Homo sapiens: one gene and its partners. The protein of the gene in region 3 interacts with the protein of the main gene of each other region in a biochemical or structural test. Each region holds a gene or a part of one and is shown on either strand. Other genes may lie near its edges.

Region 1 (6,799 bases), on a different chromosome or scaffold from region 3:
AGATAAAAGAAAAACCTAATTGTTAAGTAATGAAAATTGAGCTAGGAATGAAAGATTGATATGAATGAAATGCCCAGTACTAGTAGAAAAGCAAGGATTTTTCTTTTCTTTTGGCAAGGAGAATCAAATGTTACATACTTTGCACTTCATTGGATTTTATTCTAAGAGAAATCTGATTTCAGAGTAAGTAAATATCTTTAAGGGAAAGTTTATGCTTACTGTTATAAGGTTTTTTTTGTCATATGGTTGTCTAAATGTTGTTAATATCTATGTCATTGTGGTCATTTTAAATCCTAAAATTTGTTGGCAAAAGAAAAAATTTTTATATGGCTTCTACTTTTTGTGGAAATAGTGATTAAACTGACAAATGTCTACATCCTTCAGATTTTTGAAATTACTGTTTATTTTGTTCTATCATAAATAGTTGAATAAAAGTTACTGTACAAATTTGAACTCTTTACAGGAAGAATATAAATCTAGTAAATAATAGTAGTTTGTTTTCCTGCCGTGTGAGTTTATTTTAGGTTACTGTTACAGTGATTTGTGGGAATCTGACAGGGGTTTGTTGCTGGTAGTGGTGGTGGTAGTGGTATGTGTGTGTTTGTGTTGGCAATGCTAAGAAACATCTTAAGGGAAAGACAATTCTAAGAAGTAACACTCTGAATTTTATTAATTTGTAGGCAATAAATATTTTCATTTTGTTTTAAATTTACTATTAGGGACCTTTCTTCTTTTTAAAAAATTATTGGGGTATATTTTAGGATTAAAGGCTCTTTTCTTTTCCCTTGAGCTGCTGGTATAACTTTCCTTGTTCTGTGTAATAGCTCAGCAAAACCCAGCAGCTCAGATTCCTGCCAGGCAGCGGGAGATTGAAATGAACCGACAGCAACGCTTCTTCCGCATCCCATTCATCCGCCCTGCCGACCAGTACAAAGACCCTCAGAGTAAGAAAAAAGGCTGGTGGTATGCCCATTTTGATGGACCATGGATTGCCCGGCAAATGGAACTCCATCCTGACAAGCCACCCATCCTACTTGTGGCTGGTGTGTATGATTCACATGGAAAACAAATTATAGAACAAAAAAGATCATAAACTCTCTGAATGAAACATTCTAATGTATAATATAATAATTTATTACATTTCAGGGTTGAGGGATGGAGTCTTGCGGTTAAATCACATTTCCAGTTCAGTGAGGATTAACTCATTTATAATGTGAAATTGCTTGGATTAAATTATGTTCTTAGCACATAGAAACTTGTCTGTATCCTAAAAACCTTTCCATTTGTGTTTCATCATATCCATTGATTTGTAGTGGCTTGAGGAAATGTAGCATTTTTATTAACTCTGGTAACTTGTTTGATCAATAGCAGTGTTTATTAATATTGAAAGGGTCCTTGATGGGGGACAAATTTTAATTGTTTCTGGTGATTTTATTAAGCAGATTTCCATCTTAGAGAAAAAGTCTTAGGAAGTTTTCAAATCTATGAGAATTAATAGGTATTTCAGGCATACAACTGGTAAGAAATGGTCCTGAAGAGAGAGATGGTAATTTTCTGATATCTCATGAATACAGGTAAGGACGACATGGAGATGTGTGAGCTGAATCTTGAGGAGACTGGCCTGACTCGGAAGCGTGGTGCTGAGATCTTGCCAAGACAGTTTGAAGAAATCTGGGAACGCTGTGGAGGCATCCAGTACCTTCAGAATGCGATTGAGAGCAGACAGGCTCGGCCCACCTATGCAACAGCCATGCTGCAGAGTCTGTTAAAGTAGATGTTGCACACCAGCCTTACAGCTGGGAGCCTTTGCCATGGTACTTAGGTAGGGTGTGTGCCCCCAGATTTAACCATTCCATAATCATGTTAGAGTTACTTCTATAAAGTGAACAGATTTTATTAATCACGGCTTTTGGTGAATTTGTTTAAGGTTAATTATGGTAGCAAATTTTGGACCTAAACATTATTTTTCTGTATCCCGCTGTAATTCCCAAAACTCTCATTATTCTCTAACTATTACACATGGGCATATTCTGATGTTTCTCATCCTTTGCCAGAAGACTACCTTACATCCATCGTAATTGTTCTCTAGGAAAAGAGAACTTTTTTCAAAATTCAAAATACTTTTTAAGGATGGCACAGTACCATATAACTGGAGTAATAAAACATGAGCTTACATTCTTACAATAACTAAACCACTTAAAATGATCAAGGCACTAATGTTTTGGTCTGAAAAGCTGTGTACTTTATAGACATTTTCAGACATTTTTGGAAATTTCCATTAAAGGTGGAAAATCTATTTTTTTCCTCCTTTGCAGTGTCTTAGTTTGAATGAAACACTTCGAAGTTCTAGAATTCTAGAAAGAGCCTTAATGTATTTGATGTATTCTGTGATAAGAGGTACTAATAGTATCCAGCACAGATTTGCTTTTCTTTGCTAGCACAATGTGTGTTGCTGTCAGAATATTCTTTTTATATTCTGTGGAAAAATAAAGGAAATTCAGATTGTTTAAATGCCTAAAAGTTTTGAGATAAGTTTTGTTTCAATTAGAAAAGGAAATAGGTTTTAGGTGGCATAGTGGCTTAACTGGACTGAATTCAAATATTCTTTCAACTTCATCTCAATAGTGATTTTTGTATCAGAATCTTGTCCAAGTTGTTTCATTGATTTAGTAAGTGTTCTGCTTCCAACATCTTTCTTTTTAAGAAATTCCTAGTGTCTTTTTTGGCCTTTGAGGTTTTGGTAATTGTAGACCTGTTTCATAAGCTTTGTAATTCAGAAATCCTTGTATTTAGTAAGTGCTTGTTTTACATAACTGATAATTTTAAAATGTTTTCTTTGTGTGCTGTTAGTATTGATTCAAATGTCAGCAGCTTTAAGCCTAATATTTATGACTTTCACATTTGGAATTTAAAGACAAAAATACATCAAGGAGTTATGCTGACATAATTCTAAGGAGTTTTGTTGTATTTTAGAATAAAATTATAAAGTAAAATGATTCTCTGTACTGCTTTTTCCCCCAGTTTTTAGAGACCCTAACCTTTGAAATGAAATTCCAGTGATTTCTTTTTTCCCTAGAAAGATTACCTCAGTTAGGGAAGTATTTCCCAGCTGACTAGTGTTTGTGAGCCACAGACACTGTCTTCAGAATTGCTTCTCTCATGTCTTAGTAGAGAAATATTTATTTATTATGATACATTCAAATGATTGTCAAGTTAAATTAAATGGTTGTGTCTGTGCTATTGAGAATGCAAATGTGATTATCTTTTGAAGGCTGTATTACTGCATAGCTTCACCCACCCTCGGGTCATTTCGTCCCTGTGATTGGGGACAGAAGGTGTAGCTACTGAAGTAAATGACCTATTCTCTCTCTTCCATCTCTCGCCTTTAACTGGTGTTTTTATTTGTGTAGGATAGTGAATGATAAGCTTTTTTCCTAACCAGTAGTGAGTAAAGTTCTTGAACAAAATTTAGTAGCCAAATTGTTTTTTAATGACATGTCTCTTTAGTACAATAGTTTTGTGTATCTTTTAGATACATTAATAGGCACTAGATGGAAAATTAAAGAGTTAAACATATTTAAATGAGAGAATCTAATGTTTCAGAAATTTGTAAGAAATGTATCACAGCAAAGGGTTGTTATAAGTCCTTAGTTTTTGACTCTAATAGTTAATACAATTATAGTTAATCTTAAGCCATAATGTTTCTAATCATGTCACACAGCTGTCCTAGAACTTATCTATTTAAAATAGTTTCCTGAGTTAATTTTGGCCAGCAGGGCAACTGCCCTAATTCAGATAGATTTACAGTAACCTACGTACAGTAGATGCACATACACACAGACACCCCTTTGCTGGAGAAACTTAGGACCCTGTCAGCCTTTTAAAGGAAACAGCAGGAGTGGTGTCCTAAATGATGTTCATGCAGCTGCTTTACCATGTTCACAGTCAAGCCCATGCATGCCAGGTTAAAACTGTGGAAATCAAAAGTAAATTCACTCATATTTTAATCATTTTAACTGAGATTTAAAATTAGAAGTTTAAACCACTATATATAAAGAACTAATCTTTTCTTAATACCAGTTCTTTCCATAGCATATGCTTTGCAAAGGCAGCATGCATAAAATATTTAAAATGAGAGGACAGAATGTTTTCACATTTGATTCAATTTTAATATAATTCCTAATTGTGGTAACACAGTTGAGATATGTATTATGAGTTATGGGAACTAATTGAGAAAAGGAAGTTACTCTAATCCACGTATGTTAAGAGAATATTGAGTTTTCTTAGTTGTAAAGTTGGGGAGATGGCACCTTCTCAGAGGATTGTGAAAATATGAGGAAGAAACAAAACAGTGCATGTAGGAGCACAGGGCCACACAAAGGCATTCTATTGTTATGCTCATTCTGCTTCTGTAATGACTTTTCATAGGTCATTCTTGTGAACCATTTTGTTTTGCAAGCAACCAAGGAAAGAACATCTTAAGTGGAAAATCAGTGGTGGTTGTGAACACTTAGAGAATAGCAATCCACAGGCAAGAATAATGGTATTGTTTGTAGAGCTTTATTAATTGGATATTTTTTAAAAGACATTTTCATTCACAGGTCATTACTATGGTTCTCAGCGATCCAAATATGTAGATCATTGGTTTTTTTTTTTACCTGAAGTAGCTTAAGAGTACTTGGATCAGTAGAATAAATATTTATTGAATCAATCAGTCAGCCAATTAATATGATGTTAGTGATAGACCTGCCTCCTTTTATGGAAGAGGTAACAGATCCAGAGAGGTCAAGTAATTTAGTTGTAGACTGAAAAATATATCAAAGCCTTTGCTGCAATCATATGTAACAAAAAGAACCAAAACAAACACTTTTTAGTGGCACCTGTGGATTTACAAAGGGTTGCCTCTCTGTCATTCCACAACTTCAGAAGGTGTGACAGGTTTTCCCTATTTATCATTACCAATAATAACAAGTATTGAGAGTTTTAAAATTTCTCCCAGAAGATAAACTAACAAGGATGGAAGGGGAGGGCAAAGGATATCTAAACATGAGAATAAGGACATGTTAGAGGGGGGGAAACAGTTGTAACAATAAGGAAAGAGAAGAGCAACAGTGGAAGAGACAGGTTGTGTGCCCCTAAAGATTCTGCACCCCCAGTTTGGAAACACTGATACATTTTAGGACACAGAGCACTCCTAGATCTCTACGAAATTTTAGAATGAATAATGTGTAATTTATAGGATCAGAACGTATGGTTATTAAAACTTGGATCAAGATATGCCCGGTGTATACATTCTTAGCACATAGGAATGGCACTGCCATACTGGAGAAGGTCAGCAGTAAATAGGCATTCTGTACATAAGCCTCATGGAAGGGTAAGATGGAGAGACTGGCAGAAGTAGCACCTACTCTGCTGGGAGCACTTCTCTGAGTACGCTTTAGTTCAATTCAAATCACTGTATTCTTTCCCCATTGCTAACCTAATATATGAAACAAGCTTAGCTGTCTCAGAAGTTTTTCAAGAGATGATCAGGAAAAATTAATGCACATTCAAAAGGAGAATCTTCAGTACAAATTTGTTTTTTTAAAAATAGATTTAGGGCTGGGCGCGGTGGCTCACGCCTGTAATCCCAGCACTTTGGGAGGCCGAGGCGGGTGGATCACGAGGTCAAGACTTCGAGACCAGCCTGGCCAACATGGTGAAACCCTGTCTCTACTAAAAATACAAAACATTAGCCAGGCGTGGTAGTGGGTGCCTGTAATCCCTGCTACTTGGGAGGCTGAGGCAGGAGAATCACTTGAACGCGGGAGGCAGAGGTTGCAGGGAGCCGAGATGGCGCCATTGCACTCCATCCTGGGCAACAAGAGCGAAATTCCATCTCAAAAAATAAAATAGATTTAGGGGGTACAAGTGCAGTTTTGTTACATGGGTATATTGCATAGTGGTAAAATGTGGGCTTTTAGTGTACCTAACACCCAGAGAAGCATACATTGTGCCCAGTAGGTAATTTTTCATCCCTAAACCTTTTCTCAGCCTCCCACTTTCTGGAGTCTCCAATGTCGGTTATTCCACTCTTTATGTCCATATCTACACATTCAATCCTAATTTGTACCAAGTAGCATCTCACCTTTAAATCACAGGCTTATTAGTTGGGTGTTTTCTTTTTACTTATGAAAATTCATCTAGTCAAACTGTCAATTAATTTTTCCTCATTTCATTAAAAGTGTATATCTAATGCTTTCTCTAAAAATTGATGTACTGGAAATACAAATAAATAAATGCTCCCTGTGTAGAATTTCCACTTGCATCTTGTGCTTTTAATACCATTACAGGGTGTCATGAACAGGTTGTAAATGTTGCACTTATTGCCGTGTTTCAGATGGAATAAGTTGGCGAATTCTGGGCTCCTGAAGCTTGATCCAGTCGCTAGGGCTGGAAGCACTGTGTTAGGTGGCTGCAGGAAGAAGCAAGGAACTCAAGGTGATTGAAACTTCTTTGGACATAGGCCCCAAATTTCCTATGTGATCTCCATCCAGGAAACAGGCAGGATTCTGTGTGAGTGACAGCTACTCATTTTGTAGAGATTAGAGACACACCAAATTTTGGCTGCCTTTCTCCAGACCGTTACTAATCTGTGAGAAGACACAGGATGTAAAAACTGGGGACCAAAAGAAGGCTCCTTCTCCCTAAGGCCTTGAATATAGCTGGTCCATTCCCTGTGTCAAGAACCTACCATGATCCTGCTGGGTCCTCTGAGAGTGGAAGGAGACTCTGTCCATCTCACCTCATCAGCTCTTCC
Region 2 (7,000 bases), on a different chromosome or scaffold from region 3:
TTATTCAGAGGTAGGAAAGACTCAGAGGAGATGGGACTTGATTTAGAACTTGAAAGAAATAATTTGGATTAGCAGAGAGAAAAAGAGTATTCCAGGTTGCAGAAAAGCAAGCAAAAAAGACAGATACAGGAATAATCTCAAGCTCTGTGAGTGTAGCGATTGTGTCATTTTTATTTCCCCCCTTGTATGTGGAGCGGGGCTTAAGTATTGCAGGTGCTCTGTAAATGTATATTGAACTGAATTAAATGGAAACAAGTGGTTCTTTTAGCATCAGTTTCTAGCATCTATGGGAATCCTGTTTGTGTGGACAGGAAATCACAAAGAATGATAAATCAACTCTAAAATCCTCAAAAGTAACTAACCTCCCTTGCCCTTTTTCTCATCTTCTTGTATATAGTACAGGACAGCAAAATACAGCTTCCAATTATACAGCTGCGTAAAGTGTGGGCTGAAGCAGTGCACTATGTGTCTGGACTAAAAGAAGACTATAGCAGGCTCTTTCAGGGACAAAGGGCAGCAATGTAAGTGGATTCTGTTGTTTATAAGCACAATGCAATGTGCATCATATACTCAAGAATTAATCTTGCCGGTTTTCACTAATCAATATTGCATGTAATAGTAACATACTGGGCCAATTTGAAGTGTAATGTTCTGATAAACTTGTAGAATTCTTACTAATGGACTGAGACCATTCTATTGTAATGGCTTGAGGGTAATAATTCCCATACGGTCCTAGTATAAAAAGATTGTTTATCACAAAATATTATAGGCAGGAAGTCTTTAGAGATCAGATTCTAGAGCTCAGTTATTTCTCATAGATTGATAATAGAAACTTAGGCTTTGGCCTTGTGGCAGTTTATGTTTTTACATTATTGTTCAATGTTTCTGAATGCTGATAATATCTTTTTTCTTTTTCTTTTTTTTCTTGCTGTGGTTTAGGTTAAGTCTTCTTAGATATAATGCTAACTTAACAAAAATGAAGAACACTTTGATCTCAGCATCACAACAACTGAAAGCTAAATTGGAGTTTTTTCACAAAAGCATTCAGCTTGACTTGGAGAGATACAGCGAGCAGATGACGTATGGGATATGTAAGTGTCTGTGTAATGTATTTGAAAGGAGCATCTGGTTTCTTGAAGCCATCTGTTATTTTGCCTTCTTAACTCAGCCAGTTGTTTTACTTACCTTCACATTAGAACAAGAGACAGGACAACTTAAATTAACATAAACCATGTTTGTTTTGAATGTTACCTCTTTTTTTAAATTTGCTTAGTTGAGCAATTTAGCTTCACAATTGGGCTAAAATTATTTAGCTCTAAAAAAATACAGGTGCGATTTAATAATCTTGAATTTCAAACCTGATTTTAAAATAAATACAAAATCTGGACTTCTTAGCCAGTGCTGTGGACTGAATGTATCCCCCCCAAAATACATATGTTGAAATTCTGACCCTGAAGGTGAAGGTGTTGGTAGGTGGAGCCTTTGGGAAGTGATTAGGTCATGAGAGTAGAGCCTTCCTGTTTGGGATTAATGCTCTTACAAAAGAGACCTGAATGAGATCCCTCATCCCTTCTGCATGTGAGGACAGAGCAAGAAGATGGTCATCTAGGAACCAGAAAGCAGGCCCTCAAATCTGCCTTGTTCTTGGACTTCCCAGCCTCCAGAACTATAAGAAATAAATTTCTGTTGTTTTTATGGCACTTAGTCTATGGTATTTTGTTATAGTAGTCCAAATGGACTAAGACAACCAGGGGAGTCTTAAACTGCTTACTTTTCTGTAAATAATGACACAAATATTCTAAGGCTATGTTTTTTTCAAACCATCTACTGTGGAGTCCTACTATTTTTTAGTGTACACAGTCTCCAAATTTTCCATATTTGACTCCAAGCTTATCTCCTTCAGATGTACTAAGGAAGTGTAAAAAAACAGAGTTAAAATATGAGTAAATTGAAGGAGTCATACTACCAGCATTTCTGTTTTCTTTTATAAAACAAATCCTTTTTAGGAAACAAATACTTGTTTCCTAAAAACATATACTTGTCCTGAGCAAACTCTGTGTATCTCAGAGTAAACAATCAATAGTGTCCAGTTGGGTGAATGAATTTACTCTCCAGAACTGGTTTTATTAATATTATTGATATTTTATTTCTATTTATATATTATTGATATTTTATTTCTATTTGTATATTATTGACATTCTGGTGAGTGATAAAACATTATAATTATTTCATTAAAATATCTTAGACTTGTCAAAGGCTTATTATACAATTGTTAAAGAAAAATGAGGTAGATCTATATGTGCTTTTATTAAAAGATCACCTAAGTCTTTAGTTGACAGTTTTAAATTGTGGGAAAAAATAAAGAGTATACAGATGTTTTCACTTGTGAGGGAGCAGGCTATGTGTCTATGTAACAGATAATCATAGTAAGGTCCCTTGAGGTGGATGGTAGAGGGGTAGAAGAGAGAGTCTTTTCTGTTTATATCCTTTTATAGTATTTAATTTTTAAAAATCATATTCAAGTATTAAATTTCTTTTCTGGCCAGGTGGTGACTCACGCCTGTAATCCCAACACTTTGGGAGGCCAAAGCAGGTGGATCCCTTGAGCTCAGGAATTCAAGACTAACCTGGGCAACATGGGGTAGAACGCCATCTCTACAAAAAATGTAAAAATTAGCCGGGCATGGTGGTGCACACCTCAGCTATTCAGGAGGCTAAGGTGGGAGGATCGCTTGAGCCCTGGAGATAGAGGTTGCGGTGAGCTGAGATCATGCCACTGCACTCCAGCCTGGGTGACAGAGTGAGACTCTACCTCAAAAAAAAATTTTTTTTGTTGTTTTTTCCTTTATCCACCCATCTGCACACTGGTATAAATATATATATTTTTAAGAAAAAAGTCATCTGTATTCATTTCCTAAGGGTTCCATAACAAAATCCCATAAACTGAGTGGCTTAAGCAATGGAAACTTACTGTCTCACAGCCCTGGAGGCTAAAAGTCCAAAATTGAGGTGTTGGCAGGGCCATGTTTTCTCTGAAATCTGTAGAGAAGAATCTTTCCTTGTTTCTCTCTAGCTTCTTATGGTCTGCTAGCCATCATTGGCATTCCTTGGCTTACAGCTGCAGCACCTCAATCTGTCTCCATTGTCACAGAGCATTCTCCCCTGTGTATCTGTATCCTGTGTCTCTTCTAAGTACACTGGTCGTACTGGACTAAGGGCCCAGACCATTCCAGTATGAGTATTAATTTATCTGATTACTTCTGTAATGACCTTATTTCCAAATAGGTCACATTCTGAGGTATTAGGGGTTAGGAATTCCACATATCTTTTGGGGGACCACAATTCAACTCATAACACATCTTTGATGTTGATATGGCAAGGAGGCAGGCAGCCAGTAATTAAAGATATGGCTATTTCTGAGATAACCAATTTAGACTTTTCTTTTAGCTTCAGAAAAAATGCTAAAAGCATGGAAAGAAATGGAAGAAAAGGCCATCCACTATGCTGAGGTAAAATCATTGACGTCATTCTGTATACTTATTAATTCTTGATGTCTCCATTAGAAACTATCTTTGGTTTTGATATATAAAGAGCATTTTTCATGTCATTCCTGAAATTCAGACAAAATTCTAGTAGATGCTTTGTATATAAAGAGGGATGTATCATAGTGATTAAAAACAAGGGCTTTGGGAAAATTACCTAGTGCCTCACTGAGCTTCAGTTTCCTTTATTTATTTATTTTTTGAAACAGGGTCTCACTCTGTTGCCCAGGTTGGAGTGTAGTGGCATGATCAAAGCTCACTGCAGCCTCGACTTCCCAGGCTCAAGCAGTCCTCCCATCTTAGCCTCCTGTGTAGCTGGGACAAGAGGTGCACCACCATGCCTGGCTAACTTTTACATTTTTTGTAGAGACGGGGTCTCACTATGTTGTCCAGGCTTGTATCAAACTCCTGGGCTTAAGCAATCCTCCCACCTCAGCCTCCCATAGAGCTGGGATTATAGGCATGAGCCACCACATCCAGCTAGTTTCCATATTATAGGGACAATTTCTTTTCTAGTAGGGTTATGAAGATTAAATGGGAGTCAGTAATGGTAGTTGTCACTATTATTTTTGTGACTGGTTTAGATAGGATGGCTGCACATCCTGGTTTACCTGGGACTGTCCCAGTTTATACTTAATGTCTTGCCATAATTATCAGTAGTAGTCCCTTTCACTCTCAAAATTATGCCGGTTTGGACAATAAATTATATGGTGTCCCTAGGTATAGCTCATTCTCTAGGTGGCAGATTTTTTCCCCTTATCCTGTACATTTGTCCACGGTCCTAAGTTATTACACTCCTTAATGTCAGTACTTACCCTGAGGATGTGGGTGGGGATACCCATGGTGTCCTGGGGTGGGAAATCCAAGTTCTTTATCTTTTTGTGTCCCTATTCAAGGTAGTGGGGACCAGGGGGCAGTCAAAATCATAGAGCCAAGATACAAGTAATACCAATGGTTTTGGTGGTCCTTTTTCTTTCTTGTTAGTTGATACCTGTTGTAGCTTTTTGCTTCTCCGGAGGTAAAAGCAAATACTAGTAGTTTACTGTTGTCAGGAGAGAAAAGAGAGAAGACTAAGACTAAGTATGTTCTTATGTGAAAGATTAAGTGTCAGAATCTGAAGAATAGAAAGGCTTTAACAAAATCAGTGTTTCGTATTATATTATTTAGTTCTCTAATGAAGCAGCAAGTCATTCTGTATCCTTAAGATCTGAATTTTGTTTCCTATGATGTAGTGGTAAGCCTTTCATTTCCTTTGTATTTTCATCATATTTTAGGTTGGTGTCATTGGATACCTGGAGGATCAGATTATGTCTTTGCATGCTGAAATCATGGAGCTACAGAAGAGCCCCTATGGAAGACGTCAGGGAGACTTGATGGAATCTCTGTAAGGATGCACTTGTGTTGTTGGTCTTGACATCTGTAATATTTTGTATTCTTTCTGCTTACATCTGGCAAATTAAACCTCTAGTGGTTCTTTTCTATAGTTTTCCTTTCCCCAAATATATTGGCATTATATTTAAAATGGAAGCTTTTTCTCAGTCACAGGAAACTTCGGAAATAATTCTTTGGGTTGGCCTTTTTTGGTTTTTAATAAAAGCATTTATTTCATAGGAGTGTTAAGAATTTTCCAAGTATAACTAAGTTACAAACTATTTCCCTACTCATTATACCTCTGGTCCAAGGTATTGACTCTTAAATGCCCTAAAACTTGAAATTTTTTCTGAATTAAAGTTCTGGATTAAAAACTTCAGATATTTTCTCGAATTATAGGTCATAATTTTTGTCTTTTTAAGTGTCTGTGGTGCAGAGATGTCCCCATGATAGATCAGAATAGATATGAACTATATTAAACTTTGCATTTTAAGAACTTGTATAGTTCTTATTACTCAATACAATGCTCTGTGAAATACTTGTTGGCAATATGAACTTGCTTTAAAATGGGTTCATTATTCAAATAAAATATTGTTTCAAGTTGTAGATTATTGAAGTCATTAAATTACCTTCACTTATCAGAGCGTGTTTTCTCTTTTATAGGGAACAGCGTGCCATTGATCTATATAAGCAGTTAAAACACAGACCTTCAGGTAAGACACTTCTACCACAGTGCTTGAAGGCATTTTAGGTAACTATCACTAGCCTAACAAATGTGGGGGATCTAATATTTTTAAGTTAAAAATTTTCTTAAAGCTGCAGAATAAATTCCAGTTTTGGTATTGCCATTGAGACATGGTATAATAAGCTTTAAGATTGTGAGAATTTAGGAGATGATAAAGAGAAAGTAACAGAGAACGTGAGGTAGAAAAATTTTAGAAGGGGACGTGAAAAGAAAGAATGGAAGACAGAAAAAAGGAACTCAGAGAGGAAAAAGCAGCAAGAAAATGTTTAGAAAGATGGAAAAAATAAGTGTTGCTTAAGATTAGAGAGGTTGGGCCAGTTGTGGTGGCTCATGCCTGTAATCCCAGCACTTTGGGAGGCCAAGGTGGGTGGATCACCTGAGGTCAGGAGTTCAAAACCAGCTTGGCCAACATGGTGAAACCCCATCTCTACTAAAAATAGAAAAGTTAGCTGGGCATGTTGGCATGTGCCTGTAATCCCAGCTACTTGGGAGGATGAGGCAGGAGAATCGCTTGAACCTGGGAAGAGGAGGTTGCAGTGAGCCAAGATCACACCACTGCACTCCAGCCTGGGTGACAGAGCGAGATTCTGTCTCAAAACAAAACAAAAAAATATTATAGAGGTTGGAAAGAATTTGAGGCAGTGGGTTCAGGTATGGAATGGTTAGAGGGAAGGCCTGTGCTGTTCTAGGCCAAAGCAGATTGCTTTGAAAATAATGCCTTCATCTGCACTGGTCACTGATGACTTGTTTTGTTGGCAAAATAATTCCAGTTGAACATCTGCTAAATACTGAGCAAGGTCTGCTGGAAAGAGTACTGGATGGGGAATCAGAGGCTTGAATTCTAGATTGAGTAATTTACTGACCGTTACCTCAGGCAAATCTGCGTTTCCCATTTCCTTCTTCTGCAAAATGGGGTTGAAACCTAGCTTTCCTACTCAGTGAGTATATTGTGACAGTGTATTTAAGAGGATGTTTGTGAAAATGCTTTGAAAACTATAAACTATTATGTACTTGCAAGATATTATCATTTAGTTAAAAATTTGTTTTGAAGGGTAACAGAAGAAATAAAGTCTGTGCCCTAATGTGCATTATACTTAAATGCATGTTAAAAAAAGATATACTTTTACACTTTAAAATTTGTAGACACATAGCAACACATGCAAATTAATATACATGTGAAATTGTATTTCATATACTATTTTCACATTTAAAAAATAACATTATCTCCTCTTATACTGCTTTTATTTTACTGAAATGTATTCAGTTTAGTCTGACCAGCAGTTCTCAAAATGTGGCATATGGACCTGTGAGAATCCTTGAAACTTTGTCAGAGAGTCTGTGA
Region 3 (8,364 bases):
AATGGTTGATAGAGTTACTGAAAGTTTTTCACATCTTCAGCTAAAAAACCTTTAGAATTATCTCCAAACTTTAATCCGATAGGACACACAAACATATGAAAGGAAAAAATGTCCAGCATTCAAATAGTTTCCAATTATTCACACTGTGGCTCAAAAAAAGAAAGACTAACAACTCTCAACAGACCTCTGCTCCCAAAAAATGTAATCAGCAATTTTTCTAGGAGGCAACAGCAAAAGCCCCAGTCTATTAATTTGCACCCTTGCAGACATCCCTATTTCCAGAATCCTTTACACCTGAGTGCCAAGACATTCCGCCCAGGTATCACCCGCACCACTTTTATTTACTTTTTAGATTTTTATAAGTTGGTTTCTAAAATGCTATGATATTGGCCCACACATATTAGGGTAGAGGACATTTTTATCTTCTTCTAAAGGTTTATTTGGGACAAAATAAGCTTTAAAAAGACAGAAATGCATAAAGCCCAGATTTAACATATCCATTCCAAAAGAATACAACAAAGTCCCCAAAAGAAGTATACAAGGAGCATCATTAGGATCTTTCATGATTATTTTAACATTATTAAAAAGGTTGAAACTTTGAATTCCAAAATTTTACTTTTGTTATGGAAAAGGTATTTGCTGGTTAATTCTACAAACATGGCTGCAGTGAGAACTATAAACAGCGGTCTACAATTTAAGAACGTGATGGGCTGGGTGCGGTGGCTCACACCTGTAATCCCAGCACTTTGGAAGGCCGAGGCAGGCGGATCAAGAGGTCAGGAGTTCGACACTAGCCTGACCAACATGGAGAAACCTCGTCTCTACTAAAAATACAAAAATTTGCCGGGTATGTGTGGGGAAAAGCAAGAGAGATCAGACTGTTACTGTGTCTGTGTAGAAAGAAGTAGACATAGGAGACTCCATTTTGTTCTGTACTAAGAAAAATTATTCTGCCTTGAGATTCTGTTAATCTATGACCTTACCACCAACCCCGTGCTCTCTGAAACATGTGCTGTGTCAAACTCACGGTTAAACGGATTAAGGGTTGTGCAAGATGTGCTCTGTTAAACAGATGCTTGAAGGCAGCATGCTCCTTAAGAGTCATCACCACTCCCTAATCTCAAGTACCCAGGGACACAAAAACTGTGGAAGCCTGCAGGGACCTCTGCCTAGGAAAGCCAGGTATTGTCCAAGGTTTCTCCCCATGTGATAGTCTGAAATATGGCCTCGTGGGAAGGGAAAGACCTGACCATCCCCCAGCCCGACATCCGTAAAGGGTCTGTGCTGAGGAGGATTAGTATAAGAGGAAGGCATGCCTCTTGCAGTTGAGACAAGAGGAAGGCATCTGTCTCCTGCCCGTCCCTGGGCATGGAATGTCTCAGTATAAAACCCGATTGTACGTTCCATCTACTGAGATAGGGAAAAACCGCCTTAGGGCTGGAGGTGGGACATGTGGGCAGCAATACTGCTTTGTAAAGCATTGAGATGTTTATGTGTATGCATATCTAAAAGCACAGCACTTGATTCTTTACCTTGTCTATGATGCAAAGACCTTTGTTCACGTGTTTGTCTGCTGACCCTCTCCCCACTATTGTCTTGTGACCCTGACATAGCCCCCTCTCGGAGAAACACCCACAAATGATCAATAAATACTAAGGGAACTCAGAGGCTGGCGGGATCCTCCATATGCTGAACGCTGGTTCCCCGGATCCCCTTATTTCTTTCTCTGTACTTTGTGTCTTTTTCTTTTCCAAGTCTCTCATTCCACCTAACGAGAAACACCCACAGGTGTGGAGGGGCAACCCACCCCTTCAGTGTGGTGGTGCGCGCCTGTAATCCCAGGTACTCAGGAGGCTGAGGCAGGAGAATCGCTTGAACCTGGGAGGCGGAGGTTGCAATGAGCCGCGATCGCGCCACTGCACTCCAGCCTGGGAGACAGAGCAAGACTCCATCTCAAGGAAAAAAAAAAAAAAAGAACGTGATGACTAGAAAACAAAAACTACAATGTTCTTTGAAGTTGAACAATCAGTTTGAAAAATAAATAAAACCTTATTAGAAGTCGGCATCATCAAACAATCCTTCAAGTTTACCCTTGAAAGGAACAGAACGAAAGAGAAAGGCTGTCCTAAGCTCCTTCCCTAAACCCGAAAAGCACTTTGAGGACGATCGACCCACTTTTAGTTTCTATTCAAATGATCTCTTTAAATCCTTTAGGAATTGAGCACCAAACTTGTAACTATTAATTGTTCGTGCACAGCTCGTAGAAATTTTAACATTAGCAGAATGCAGACAGCTGAAAAATCAAGATTTATTTTCCCATCTAAAGCCTAACATAATAGCAATTCATAACCACTGTGTGAAACCGGAAATCTAACACTGTGTATGTCTAAAGTCAAATGCCAGTGTTTTCTAACAAAACTTTTACCAATAAGGTGTGTACACACACCCACACAGACGCACGCTAAGCTCAATTTTTTACTAATAAGGTGTACGCGCGCGCGCGCACGCTAAACTCTAGCCACAGATTCCCTAAGCCAGGAGTGCAAGTCGGTCGGGACTAGTCCACACCTTGCGAACGGGGCGGGGTGGGGAATGGATTCCAGGTGAAGCAGGCCATCAGCCAGAACCGCCAACTCCGCCCGCGGCCCTCAAAAGTAGGCGGCGCAGGGAGTCTCCGCCCCCTTCGCCACCGGCGACTCAAACCAAAACAGCTGGGTTTCTCTCCGCAAAGGCAAACCCCAGCGTCCTTCTCGGACGCGACCTACGTGTTTTCTCAGCTTACTGCGCCGGTAAAACCCACACTGCCCTCAAAACAGTCACCCCAGAGTTTAGCCTTGGACACCAGAAGCTTTTCCTTCGGGGGTCGCCAGCGTCACTCGTCCCCAGCCAAAGGGCCCCCGTCCCACACGCCTCCCCCAAATCGCGAAGGCCTGTCCCACGGGCCTCCCACCGCGTGGGGCGGCCACCCGTTGCCATTCCAAAACTCCACAGCTGATCCGAGTCGCCCACACCCCCGTCACAATCGCAGTCTGGAAAGGAAGGTTTGTCTTCGGGAAGGAAAGCCTCGTCACCACAGAGACCTCTCCCGAGACCGGCCAGGCCCCTACAGTACAGGGGCTGAAGGGTGTAGCACGAGCCCTAAAAGAGATGCAGCTGGAGGCCGCCCCGCACAAGGCGCTGGGGTGGACCGGGGAGGCGCCTTACCCAGTGGAAAGACTCCCGGATCAAGGGAGAAAGTTACGCAGGCTTCCGATCCTGATCCGCCATCAGCCGCCGAACCTCTTCCGCCACTACCGCCTACCCCCAAAGACCGGCTACACCTCCCCTCCCAGCCGACAGTAGGCCTTGCGTCACTTCCGCCCACGGGGCGGTCTCTTCCGCCTCCTGCCTGGTTCGCCGCTCCCCTCCGCGACGACACGCCCCCAGCCCACTCCGCCGCGGGACGCCTCATCCCGCGGGTAGGCTGGCTCTCTCCTTACTTCGTCCTTGCTATTTTCGTTCAACTTAATCGCAGCAAAACAATGCGTCTGGATTTACATTCTGATTTTATGTTATTATTTTGACATACGAAAGGGGGAAACACACAGGAGGTTTAAGTAACTCACCAGCGATGTGGAAAGGGCAGCTCAGAGGTCCATGGACAGTACCGTATCCCTGTCTGCGTCTCAGTCGGCCTAAACTAGCCCACTCATTTTATAGATAAGGAAATAGCCAGAGAAGCAAGGGAGTGACCACACGGCTAGGGCTGCAAACCCCTGAGCACCAAGACTGTCTCTGAACTCCTGGCCCAGTCGTGTGCTTTTTTGGCTATGAAGTTTTGTTCACTGAAAGCTCCTAGGAGCTTTTCAGTTCTAATGCCCTCTGATTCTATTTGCTCTCGCTCCAGCAGAGGCCTCTTTTCTAGCCGCATTTCTGTGAGTTACCTGCTTTTGTTATCCGTATCATTTTCCGTGTGTGAATTTTCTCCCGCGTTCTGTTATTTCTAAAATCACTTTTGCTTGTTGTATATGTTGCCTTCCTATATTGGACATTCAGTTTGAATCGTAACTCCACAGAAGCAAATGTGTCCCATTCGAATTCATCATAGTCTTCTGTTGCCGTAAAACCCTGACAAACCTTGCAATAGCACCAGAAAGGATATGTAAATTAGATCGCATTAAATGTTGAAGCACATTCTAAATACAGAACATTCAAAATTATCTTTCATATACTTTCATCTTTACTTCCAGTTATTTCAGAAGACATTAGCTTTGATAACATAGGTTCTCAATATTTACAGACTGATTTGTTTCCTGTGTATTGACATTTTTGAACTTGGTCTTGTGCTGGGTATTATACTTGATCATAGAATTTCAGAAGAACCTTAATAGGCCATTTAGTCCCAGTCTCCTTATTTTATGGATGAAGAAAACGGTGTGAATAATCAACATAAGTTATCACTTGCGTTACTGGTAGCAACCTTCTGGTAGTAGAAATAACTGTGTCCCTTAAGAAATGTAAACATAGCAGTGAATTTTATAAGCACAATTTGTCAGAGATGTCACTCTTTGTTTAAATCACATTCCTATTTATATGTAATACATTTTTAATTACCACTAATTTTCAGTTAATGAAATCAGAAAAACAGTATGCTTAATAAAAACCATAATTGAAAGACTTTTTTTTTTGCCCTGAGAGGGACGGAGTTTCGCTCTTGTTGCTCAGGCTGCAGTACAGTGGCGCGATCTCGGCTCACTGCAACCTCCGCCTCCCGGGTTCAAGCAATTCTCCTGCCTCAGCCTCCCAAGTAGCTGGGATTACAGGAGCCAGCCACCACGCCTGGCTAATTTTTGTATTTTTAGTAGAGAGGAGGTTTCGCCGTGTTGGTCAGGCTGGTCTCAAAGGACATTTTCACAGGTATTTTTACTTTGTTATTTTTAATTATTTCTTGAATTTTTAGACCTTATTTTCCCCAGGAAGGTATTTGTTCTGGAATTTTAGCTTGCTTCATTCATTTTAATAATGATCCTTTAATTTTTAGACCAAGTTTTTCCCACCAAGATAAATAGATACCCTCTTAGTATTTAATTGAATTTCTGGGTTTTGGGGGAGTAGGGTTTGGGTTTTTTGTTTGTTTGTTTTTTGAGACAGAGTCTCGCTCTGTCACCTAGGGTGTAGTGCAGTGGCATGATCTCGGGTCACTGCAACCTCCACCTCCCAGATTCAAGCAATTCTCCTGCCTCAGCCTCCCCAGTGGCTAGGATTACAGGCGCACACCACCACACTGGGCTAATTTTTATATCTTTAGTAGAGACGGGGTTTCTCCATGTTGGCCAGGCTGGTCTCCAACTCCTGACCTCAGGTGATCTGCCTGCCTCAGCCTCCCAAAGTGCTGGGATTACAAGCATGAGAGACCGCACCCGGCTTTAATTGAATTTCTTAAAGTTAGCCTCTTATTTGTATGGCAGTGGACTATGGCTAGAAGAGATATGGATTCACTTCCTTTAAGTGAAATCTTTCTGCCAGATGGATTTCAGAATTCAGAATTTTTCAGACTTTAGAGAGGTGTGCTTTATGTGACATTCCTCACTATCTGGGGCAGCACCCACAGTCAACTTTTTTTTCCGGAACAATTATGAATATCACACTAAGATAAATGAAATGTATAGTCTCACTCAAGTCAAGTTTTTCAGGTCAGGTTCTGCCACTTTGCCCTTGGGTTCAGGTCAAGTTTTAATGACAAATGAGTCAGGTCAAACAGGTTTTGCCACCAAATGTTGAGAAAACATTTGATTTTCAGAGCTTTTTCTTTTTTTTTTTTTTTTTGAGACGGGGTCTCTGCCCTCTTCCCTGTCACCCAGGCTGGAGAGCAGTGGCAAGATTTCGGCTCACTGCAACCTCTGCCTCCCAGGTTCGAGTGATTCTCCTTCTGGGATTACAGGCATGAGCCACCGCACCTGGCCAATTTTCAGAGCTTTTTAGATTTCGAAGTGGTGAATATTGAGAGAATTATTGGAAAGTAAATCAGTGAGTAACCCATGATTTTTCTGGAGCAACTACAGTGTCAAGTAGTTTCTAGGCAGTTGTCCTGTGTTTGATTGGGAAAATATGCTGACTATATTTAAAAGGCACTGTTCTTTCATTAGAGGAACTTATGATAGCAAAGGGAAGAAAAGAAATGAGCCCATGAAAATGTAGGTAACTAAAGTGTAAATGAATAGGAAGACAGATATTCAGAGATGGGAGAAAGTACAGGCTTATGTTAGCAGTACACTTTTCATGGGGGAGGCAGGCCTAGACTGTCAAAGTGAGGTATGATTTCGATGAGGAGATGGAGGAGGAGGACTTTCCAGTCAGGATTTAAGAGCTTGGGCAAGGGAATCAGGCAAGAAGAAAATTGTTAACCAAAAATAATAATTTCCTCCAAAGTTCATTCATTCACCATTGTGTCATGTCGCTTCTTAATAAGAGCATTTTGTTCATTTACTATGTGCTCTGGGAAAAACAAGGAATCAAGCATGGTTTCTTCCCTGAAACTGCTTAAAATCAGGTCAAGATGTTACCGGATGGTATAGATAACTGTCAAATTTGAAGGAAATGGACTATGAGAAATAAAGTAGAAAGATATACAGAATAATTAATTTTGAAATTAGCTAGACTTTGTAAAAGAGATTGGTCTCTAAACTTCAAAAGACTGATAAGATTTGAAAAGATGAAAAAAAGGCTTACATAGTGAGAATAATATAATTTAAAAGGCACAGATGGGACAACTAGATAGCAAAACATGGATTGAAAATTTTTGAAAAAGTTCAAATAGACATGTTTTATTAGAAACATTACAGGTTTTAAAAGCCAGGCAAATGAGTTGTTCTCCTTTCTTAGAACAATGGTTTACATTAGAATTTGTATTAAAGATTCCTTTTGTTATAAATGATTCTTAATTAAAAAGAAAAAAACACCTTTGTAAACCTTTGTTTTAAAAAGAGAGCTTTTTTTTTTTTTTAGGCAGAGTCTCACTCTTTCACCCAAGCTGGAGTGCAGTGGCGCAATCTTGGCTCACTGCAACCTCTGCCTCCCGGGTTCAAGTGATTCTCCTGCCTCAGCCTCCCAAGTAGCTGGGACTACAGGTGCATGCCACCACACCCAGATAATTTTTTTGTATTTTTAGTTGAGACGAGGTTTCACTATGTTGGCCAGGATGGTCTCAATCTAAAAAGAGAGCCTTTAAAAATGAGATTTGAATAATGGTAGGCTTTGGATAGGCAGAGAAAGAGAGGATTCCAAACACTCTAAAATAGGCTGATTTTCTCTTTCCCTGTCTGTTAGATTTTATTGATGTATTCATTGCTCCTTGTTTCCCAATCATTACCTACCTAGGTGCTTGTAACACACCTTTGCTCCTTTGAGATATACACTGTTGTGTTATGCTCCGTCTTCCCTCCCTGTGGCTGTCGTCTTCTGATCTCCAAGTCACTGTTCCTCATTCAGTGAAGAGTGTCACCTAGTGCACAGTCTCCTCCATTCTAAGCCATTCATTGTCTACTTGGATGAGATTAAAATGAAAAGGCCAACATCCCAGCATTTTAATTTCCTGAATCCCTCATCTCAAATACTCCACTCCAGATACCTATTTCTGTGGTCACACCTTGGCCCTTGCCATCATCTTGAAAAGCAAGCCTCCTACTCTTTGACCACAATCTCCTATTCTTCTAACTTGTTCATTCAAATATGCCCAGCAGAACTATTTTTCAAACTCATCAGCATCTCAATCCATTTCTTTTTTTAATACTTCCCTCAGTATCCAACTTAGAGTCCATAGCTATAATTTCATTAACACGACTTCCAACACCTTAAACTCCCTTGACTTCCTATCTTGCACATTAAGGAAAATTTCCTATAACAAATGCATTACAGACTTTGTAGTCATCACATGCTTTACACTAAAGTTTACGTCTGGAAATACTAAGCAGAAACTTTGAAGTTAAAATTGAGTGTTTTGGGAAGTTTCTTGCACTATCAAAAAGAGAAACTATAATTTATGATACTAAGAAACAGAGCCTGCAGAGGTTTATATAAGACCTTTGCCCCATTGGCTCCTAACAGTGTTCTTTGTTCCTTGTGCAACTGAAAGGTCACTAGAATGTAAATATTTTCTAACCTCTCTTCCTCATCTTACTGAGAAGAGTAATAGCCAGCAAAGTACTTTGAATTTTTAAGGTACTTATGTCAACAAGATTCTTCCTTCCCAGTGTTTCTTATTAAATACCTGTATTTTGTGAGTCACTGTGTATCAATGATAATTAAAGTTAATAAAAATTATTTTAAGGAAATGTTAAGATAATCTTCAAATGTTTAATTTTAACCAAGGCTAAATCAAAGTTTTAG

What was found.
Region 1: the proteins of TAX1BP1 (region 3) and MYO6 form a complex in vitro, tested with the Homo sapiens proteins (5 studies listed by BioGRID, with this or other methods).
Region 2: of the proteins of TAX1BP1 (region 3) and CHUK, one has a biochemical effect on the other in vitro, tested with the Homo sapiens proteins (one study listed by IntAct).

What each region holds. Positions count from the first base shown.
Region 1 is NC_000006.12:75,913,239-75,920,037, forward strand, and holds the end of MYO6 (unconventional myosin-VI), read left to right. Parts: intron 1-824; coding exon 825-1,043; intron 1,044-1,574; coding exon 1,575-1,774; 3' UTR 1,775-6,299; downstream 6,300-6,799. UniProt on the Homo sapiens protein: Myosins are actin-based motor molecules with ATPase activity. Unconventional myosins serve in intracellular movements. Myosin 6 is a reverse-direction motor protein that moves towards the minus-end of actin filaments.
Region 2 is NC_000010.11:100,198,597-100,205,596, reverse strand, and holds part of CHUK (inhibitor of nuclear factor kappa-B kinase subunit alpha), read left to right. Parts: intron 1-397; coding exon 398-521; intron 522-939; coding exon 940-1,091; intron 1,092-3,447; coding exon 3,448-3,509; intron 3,510-4,816; coding exon 4,817-4,926; intron 4,927-5,576; coding exon 5,577-5,626; intron 5,627-6,428; coding exon of another isoform or gene 6,429-6,496; exon of another isoform or gene 6,497-7,000.
Region 3 is NC_000007.14:27,735,110-27,743,473, reverse strand, and holds the start of TAX1BP1 (tax1-binding protein 1), read right to left. Parts: upstream 3,313-8,364; 5' UTR 3,205-3,312; exon of another isoform or gene 2,799-3,204; intron 1-2,798.